Linked DNA regions of Homo sapiens. The protein of the gene in region 1 purifies or fractionates together with the protein of each later gene. This does not show direct contact. Each region holds a gene or a part of one and is shown on either strand. Other genes may lie near its edges.

Region 1 (4,407 bases):
ATTCTCCAGCCTCAGCCTCCCGAGTACCTGGGACCACAGGCGCCCGCCACCACGCCCAGCTAATTTGTTGTATTTTTAGTAGAGACGGGGTTTCACCGTGTTGGCCAGGATGGTCTCGATCTCTTGACCTCGTGATCCACCCACCTCGGCCTCCCAAAGTGCTGGGATTACAGGCGTGAGCCACCGCACCCAGCCCCTTCACAGTTCCTGGCAGAGGGATGAGATCAGAGACAAAGAATGAAGGGATGAATGAATTGGGATTCAGAGAGCATTCTTCCTTAAACACAGAACATCAGCACTGAACAAGTCGCAGGCCAGGTGCACACACACAGCTCATCACTCCCTTGGGGTACAACAAGCCCAAGGACTGACCACAGAACCATAGAAGCCTTCTATGGACACGGCAAAAAGAAGCAAATGGGGACCACCTGTTCACAGCTGCTGCTCCCTGTTGTTGGTGTGAGATAAAGTGGGGGTGACCTCCTGGATAGAGGAGAAGACTGAAGTAAGAGGGCTTGGAGGAAGATCTGAGGAAGCCTGGCTCAGGTTCAGAGTTTCTGAACCTGAAGATTCTGAACATGAAGATTCCAGATCTGACTGTCCCTTGTGCCCCCATCCCCCCAGCTCACCATTGCTGGCTTCTCGGACAAGCTGTTCAGACAGAAGAACCCACCACCTAGGCCTCCCTATACCTGCAGGAATAAAGCCTGGGCAGAAAAGATGTGGAGCTTCCAGGCCTCCCTATACCACAGCTGCAGGAATAAAGCCCTGGCAGAAAAGACGGGGAGCTTCCCAGGGCCACACTCTGTCTGCCTCCTGTCCTCCAGCCACTCCTGTGGCACAGAGAGAGGGGACCTGCAGAGCCTGGGTCACCTGCCTCTGTTGCCTCCCCTCTTCTCCCACCAGAGCTGCCTCGTGCCCTCAGGGTTTCAGGGGCAGCTCAGGCTTGCCAGACGTCATAGCTGTGTTTTTTTTTTTTTTGGATCGGAGCGTGTGGTGAGTGAGCTGGCAGTGAGGGACTAAGGGAGTGAGAGGACAGAGCTCTGGGTCCTGAGGGGGCCCCCTCAACCTTTAGCCCTTGCCCCCATGAGGTCTACTTCTCAGATTCCCAAGGAGCCGGGAGGTGAGGGTCCTGCTGCCCTGGCTGGCCCCCGTGGACAAGGACAGGCCTGTTTCCTCAGCTGTGTCTGCTTCTGGCTGGAAGGAAACACCTGGATATGAAAGAGCCAGTGGGGTGGGGGTGGGGGAGCATTGTTCCCAGGGGCAGGGAAGCTTGGTGGGATCTGAATTCAGGTGGGGCCTGAATGCAGCAGGGACCAGATGGCGATGACTGCAGCTTGGCATCTGCAGCCACCGTGTCAGCCGAGGCGCTTTCGTGGAGACAGTGTAGGGCCTGCAGCAGGTTCTAGTGTGAGGCAGCGGGGCATGGTGGCCAGGCAGGTGGCATTCCAATCCTGTTAATAGGGCAACTTGGGCTGCTTGCTTAAAACCTCCGTGCCTCAGTTTCCCTATCTTAAAGGGGACCTGACAACAACACCTACCTCATAGGCTTGTCATGAGACTAAATGAGATGATATTTGAAAACCACATAGAGCTAAATAAATAAATGGACCGGGCCAGGCGCTGTGGCTCATGCCTGTAATCCCAGCACTATGGGAGGCCGAGGTGGGTGGATCACGAGGTCAGGAGATCAAGACCATCCTGGCTAACACGGTGAAAACACAAAAAATTACTACTAAAAATACAAAAAATTAGCCAGGCGTGGTGGTGTGTGCCTGTAGTCCCAGCTACTTGGGAGGCTGAGGCAGGAGAATCGCTTGAACCCAGGAGACGGAGGTTGCAGTGAGCCGAGATCGCACCACTACACTCCAGCCTGCGCAAAAGCGTGAGACTGTCTCAACAACAACAAAAAAGGACCGGCCTGCGAGTGCTCCACACACCCCCTCTAGCTGTGCTCCCCCCAACACCTGACTTTCCCACTTGCTTTCCTGCCTCTGGGGGTTTGCACACTTTGCTCCCCATTGCTGAGGTGCCTCTTGCCTCCTCTTTGCACACCAGGTCCTCCCTTGAGCCTCAGCCAGGCACCACCTTCCACGGGACCCTCCCTGAGCCCGCACCCTGCAGTCTCTTTCATCCTGCACACACCACACACCTCCTGGCTCGCTGAGGACCCTGAAGGTTCTGAGTTGGTCACTCGCAGCTGTGTTCAGACCCTCTTTGCAAGCAGTCAGCCCTTCAAGGACAGAGACCAGGCCTCGGTCAGACTCTGGCACACATAGAAGATACTGGATTTGTGTATAGGAAGAGAATCAGCCAGACCAGCATGACTTTCACCAAATTCCCCAGGAAAGTGATGGGCAGATGATGTCCCAGAAAGGGCACAGACTGGGACCCAGATGTTTCACACTGAGTCCTGCTCCTTGCTAACCCACTCTGCAATCTTTGGCAAGTTGCTTCATCTCCCTAAGCCTCAGTCTTCTGTTCTATAAAATGGCACTAAAACACTTATCCAGTCAACCTCTAAATGCTGGTGAGAATCAAATGGGAAAATGGGTGTACTCTGCAGCACCGGGCATCAATCATTAGTCCTATTATTAACAGCATGTACAGGATTCCAGAAGAAAGGAGAGTCCTTCTCACAGGGTCCCGTGTCTTTTCATCTTGTGAAAATGGGCTGAAACAATCTTAACTTGGCAGAATTACCCTGCAGTGTCTGAGGTCACCCTTCTCAGAAAGACGGCCCTGGCAGCCCTGAGCCTGGATAAATAAGAGCCAGGGGTGTTTCAGCCCCCCCAGGGGCTCCCCTTCCAGGTCCCTCCGTTCCACCCCTCTATCTGTTCTGCTCAGATCTGCCTGCCTGGCGATCTCCATCCAAGCCAGCACTTACCTTGGTTCGGTGGCAGCTTCTGGGCTCCCCAAGTCCTTCAGCCAACTCCCCACGGTCCTGAGCGAGGTCCCCAGTCCCAGAGAAGCAGATGTCTTGGGGGAGCCTCCACGGGTGTCTGTGGTCTTGACTGTGCTCTTCAGATCTGCAAAGAAAAGCTCGATGTCTCACAGCTCTGTCCCCTCCTCTTCCTTCCCCTTCCTTGTGGCCCTCGAAGCTCCTCCCAGAATGCATTTTGCTGTGAGGATCCTTTCTAAAGAAGCATGACCCACGGTCACTGGAGGTCCTTTATTCTGATCGAATGTGACCAATTTTATGGGGCAGGAGGGGGACACCTCCCAAGAGACTCCCTCTGGTGTTGACGGGGGAGGGACTGATGCAGGGAGCCCTGACCTCTCTCTCAAGCTCCAGACTCACCAACCATCCCCCACCCCTGGACATGGCCAGCCAGATGTCCCTCAAGCACCTCCATCTCAACAGGTACAAACCGAGCTCATCATTTCTCCCTCTAAGCCCACTTCTCTGTTTCCTGCCTCAGAATCAGCAACCTCGGTATCATCCTAACGCCTCCCTCTTCCTCGCCTGTTACATCTAAACTGCACCAAGCCCTGTCAATAGGTCATGGATCCTCCACTTTCTTCCATCCCTATGGCTGTCACTGTTTCACCTGACTACCATGGTCTTTCTCCTGAAACACTACAATAGCCTGAGGTCCTTCACCCCACAGCCAAAGGTCTCTTTCTAAGAGTGAAACACAAATCTATTCATGTTACACTCCTGCTACAACCTTCAATGGCTCCTTATTACTTTAAAGAGAATGGCCAAACTCCTCAGTGTGACTTGCCAGACCCTTCTTGATCTGGTCCCTCCCTAAACTCCAACCTCATGCTTTATCCCCTCACTCCAGCCCCTCCCAGAAGTACTGCAGTCTCTTAACTATCCAGGCTGTGGGAATCACTTCCCAACCCTTCTCCTGGCTCATCCCTTGTCATTCATTATTTATCAGAGAAGAACAAAAAAACAAGCCTAAGAGGCAGGAGGAAAGTGGAGTGCCAGGGATGCTGGCAGAAGACAGAATGCCAAGGAGGAGACAATGGTCAACGACGCCAATGATTGTGGAGAGGACACAGGTGAAGAGAATGAAGAAGCATCTGCTGTCCTTGGCAATTAGGAGAGAGCAGTGCTGGGCAGGAACAGTAGACCTGCTGGGGGAAGTTGATCAACCGCATGGTGACACATTTGCTACTTTGTCATTTTCTTTTTTTCACATTTTGAAGTCAAACACTATTTGGGAGAGTCTCTGACACATTTCTAGAGCTTTGAAAAACTCACAGATTCTATGCTGTCATCCCGTTGGGCCTAATGGGTAAATGGCTCTAGAGAGTGACAGATTGCTGACAGCAGGGTTTGAGTGCTGGATCCAGCTATGCCTGAAATTCTGGGGCTGAATCTACTCTTGGACTGTTCATTGTACATGATCCAATAAATTCCATTCTTTTTTGGATTAAGCCTGTTGGAGTTTG
Region 2 (3,809 bases), on another chromosome or scaffold:
TGTGTCATAAATAAGGAAAGGTGCTATGCCTTGATGTGCATGTATACAAACATTAAAGAGCAGTATTGTCGCTAGCACCTCTCACCTCCAGCCCTAAGGCTGTTTTCTCCTATCTCAGTAAATAGAACATACAATCGGGTTTTAAACCCAGACATTCTATTGCCCAGGGACAAGCAGGAGACAGATGCCTTCCTCTTATCACAACTGCAAAGAGGCCTTCCTCTTTTACTAATGCTCCTCAGCACAGACCCTTTACGGGTGGGGTGTCGGGCTGGGGGACAGTGTCGGGCTGGGGGACGGTCAGGTCTTTCCCTTCCCACAAGGCCATATCTCAGGCTATCACATGGGGAGAAACCTTGGACAATACCTGGCTTTCCTAGGCAGAGGTCCCTGCAGCCTTCCGCAGTGTATTGTGTCCCTGGGTACTTGAAATTAGAGAATGGTAATGACTTTTAACAAGCATACTGCCTTCAAGCACTTTTTTAACAAAGCACAGCCTGCATAGCCCTAAATCCATTAAACCTTGAGTCAACACAGCACGTCTCTGCGACACAGGGTTGGGGTAGGGTTACAGATTAACAGCATCTCAAGGCAGAAGAATTTTTCTTAGTACAGAACAAAATAGAGTCTCTTATGTCTACTTCTTTCTACATAGACACAGTAACAGCCTGATCTCTTTCGTTTCCCCACAAATCCATATAGTATTTGAGTGTGATAATGTAAAAATCAGTATTCATTTCTAAATCTAAGTACTGCTTTGAGAATTTTGTTGGTAATTCCAGTTGCTGCTGCTTCAGCAGAAGGAAGCTTCTCCAAATTAAAATAAATTAAAAACTTGCTAAAAACTATGTTGACTCAAGAAAGCTTGTCTTTTGCCATTTTGTCAATAGAAGTCACGTTAAGTATAAGAACATCATCAGGGGCCGGGCGCGGTGGCTCACGCATGTAATCCCAGCACTTTGGGAGGCCGAGGCGGGCGGATCACGAGGTCAGGAGATCGAGACCATCCCGGCTAAAACGGTGAAACCCCGTCTCTACTAACAATACAAAAAATTAGCCGGGCGTAGTGGCGGGCGCCTGTAGTCCCAGCTACTCGGGAGGCTGAGGCAGGAGAATGGCGTGAACCCAGGAGGCGGAGCTTGCAGTGAGCCGAGATCCCGCCACTGCACTCCAGCCTGGGCGACAGAGCGAGACTCCTACTCAAAAAAAAAAAAAAAAAAAAAAAAAAGAACATCATCAGGCCAGGCTTGGTGGCTCACGCCTGTAATCCCAGCACTTTGGGAGGCCAAGGTGGGTGGACTGCCTGAGCTCAGGAGTTCATGACCAGCCTGGGCAACATGGTGAAACCCCATCTCTACTAAAAAATACAAAAAATTAGCCAGGCTTGGCAGTGTGCACCTGTAGTCCCAGCTTCTCAGGAGGCTGAGGCAGGAGAACTGCTAGAACCCAGTTGCAGTGAGCCGAAATCACACCACTGCACTCCAGCCTGGGCGACAGGGCAAGAGTTGGTCTCAAAAAAAAAAAAAAAATCAGTACTCCCTGGAATGAAGCCAAGAAAAAATATTTTAATGGAATAAATACATAACTTATTAAATGCATCTGTGTGTGTGCATGTGTGTGTGTGCACGTGTGTGCGTGTGTGTGTGTGTGTGTTTGCCATTCATCTGCCATCACCAGCCGATTAACAAATGACCCTGGTATGCACAATAATAACTAAGTTAAGTCATCATTGGTAGTTTGTCAGCTTGCAGTGAGCCAAGATCACACCCCTGCACTCCAGCCTGGGCAACAGTGCAAGACTCCGTCTCAAAAACAAAAAAAAGTCCGGGCGCAGTGGCTCACACCTTTAATCCCAGCACTTTGGGAGGCCAAGGCAGGCAGATCATGAGGTCAGGAGTTCAAGACCAGCCTGGCCAAGATGGTGAAACTTCATCTCTACTAAGAATACAGAAAAATTAGCTGGGTGTGGTGGTACACGCCTGTAATCTCAGCTGTTTGGGAGGCTGAAGCAGAGAATTCCTTAAACCCGGGAGGCAGAGGCTGCTGTGAGCTGAGATGGCGCCACTGCATTTCAGCTTGGGCAAAAGAGCAAGACTCCATCTCAAAAAAATTTAAAAAGTAGATTTTAGGTACTCTTACCACAAAAAAATAAAGAAAGGTAATTGTGAGATGATAGGTATGTTATTCTAGTTGACTGTAATCATAATTTCACTATGTATATCAAAACATTCATGGCTGGGTGTGGTGGCTTATGCCTGTAATCCTAGAACTTTGGGAGGCCAAGACAGGCAGACTGCCCGAGCTCAGGAGTTGAAGACCACCCTGGGGCCAACATGGTGAAACCCCGTCTCTACTGAAAGACAAAAAATTAGCCGGGAGTGGTGGTGCATGCCCATAATCCCAGCTACTCAGGAGGCTGAGGCAGGAGAATCACTTGAACCTGGGAGATGGAAGTTGCAGTGAGCCGAGATCACACGACTGCACTCCAGCCTGCGCCACAGAGCAAGACTGTCTCAAAAAAAAAAAAAAAGTTCACCTTATATACAGTGAAACATATATACAAGAAAAATACCGATTTTTCAAGATACATTTACCACAGTAACAGGATAGAACATACTTATAACTTCCCAATATTAAATATATGGTATGTGGGCCTCCAGTTGTATTTGTATTGTTGCCATGGCCCCTTGCAAATGTTAGAGGTGGGCCTGCCACCAGCAGGGACTGGGAGAACCCTCCTTCCTTATCTAACAGGTAAAGGGTAACACTGTTACTTTAATTTGCTCTTCCCTTTCCCTGACAGTGAGTTTGAGCATTTTACATTTGTTTATGGGTTTTTCCTTTTTACAAATTTGCCTAGTTTTGTCCTACACTCATTTTTTCCTTTGAATTATTTTTTCCCTTTCTTATCAGTCTCATTGTTTTTTCTTTTACATTTTTAACGTTCTTTATAGATAGATGGGATTTCTCTATGTTGCTCAGGCTGGCCTTGAGCTCCTGGGCTCAAGTGATCCTCCTACCTCTTCCTCTTGAGTAGCAGGAACTACAGGCACAAGCCACTGTACCTGGCTCTTATGAGCCTTAAGGTTATGTTCTGCTGTAAATAAAATTTTAAAAAATCCCAAATCTGCTGTTTTTATTTTGCTTTTGCTATGGTATTTTTGCCACATAAAAGATTTTAGGGCCAGGCGTGGTGCCTCACGCCTGTAATCCCAGCAGCTTGGGTGGCTGAGGCGGGTGGATCACTTGAGCCCAGGAGTTTGAGACCAGCCTGACCAACATGGTGAAACCCCGTCTCTACTAAAAATACAAAATTAGTCGGGCATGGTGGTGCATGCCTGTAATCCCAGCTACTTGGGAGTCTGAGGCAGGAGAATCACTTGTACCCAGTAGGTGGAGATTGCAGTGAGCCAAGATCACGCCATTGCACTCCAGCATGGGCAACAAGAGCAAAACTCCATCTCAAAAATGAAATAAAATAGGCCGGGTGCAGTGGCTTACGCCTGTAATTCCTGCACTTTGGGAGGCTGAGGTGGGTGGATCACAAGGTCAGGAGTTCGAGACCAGCCTGGCCAACATAGTGAAACCCCATCTCTACTAAAAATACAAAAATTAGCTGGGCATGGTGACACACGCCTGTAGTCCCAGGTACTCGGGAGGCTTAGGCAGGAGAATAGCTTGAACCCATGAGGCAGAGGTTGCAGTGAGCCAATATCACGCCACTGCCCTCCAACCTGGGCAACAGAGTGAGACTCCATCTCAAAAATAAATAAAAGTAAAATAAAAAAAGATTTTAAATTTTTTCTGGC

What was found.
Region 2: the proteins of PIK3R6 (region 1) and ASRGL1 purify together in Homo sapiens (affinity purification with mass spectrometry; one large-scale study listed by BioGRID and IntAct). This does not show direct contact.

What each region holds. Positions count from the first base shown.
Region 1 is NC_000017.11:8,864,642-8,869,048, forward strand, and holds the start of PIK3R6 (phosphoinositide 3-kinase regulatory subunit 6), read right to left. Parts: upstream 3,034-4,407; 5' UTR 2,888-3,033; intron 1-2,887. UniProt on the Homo sapiens protein: Regulatory subunit of the PI3K gamma complex. Acts as an adapter to drive activation of PIK3CG by beta-gamma G protein dimers.
Region 2 is NC_000011.10:62,382,401-62,386,209, forward strand, and holds part of ASRGL1 (isoaspartyl peptidase/L-asparaginase), read left to right. Parts: exon of another isoform or gene 1-848; intron 849-3,809. UniProt on the Homo sapiens protein: Has both L-asparaginase and beta-aspartyl peptidase activity. May be involved in the production of L-aspartate, which can act as an excitatory neurotransmitter in some brain regions. Is highly active with L-Asp beta-methyl ester.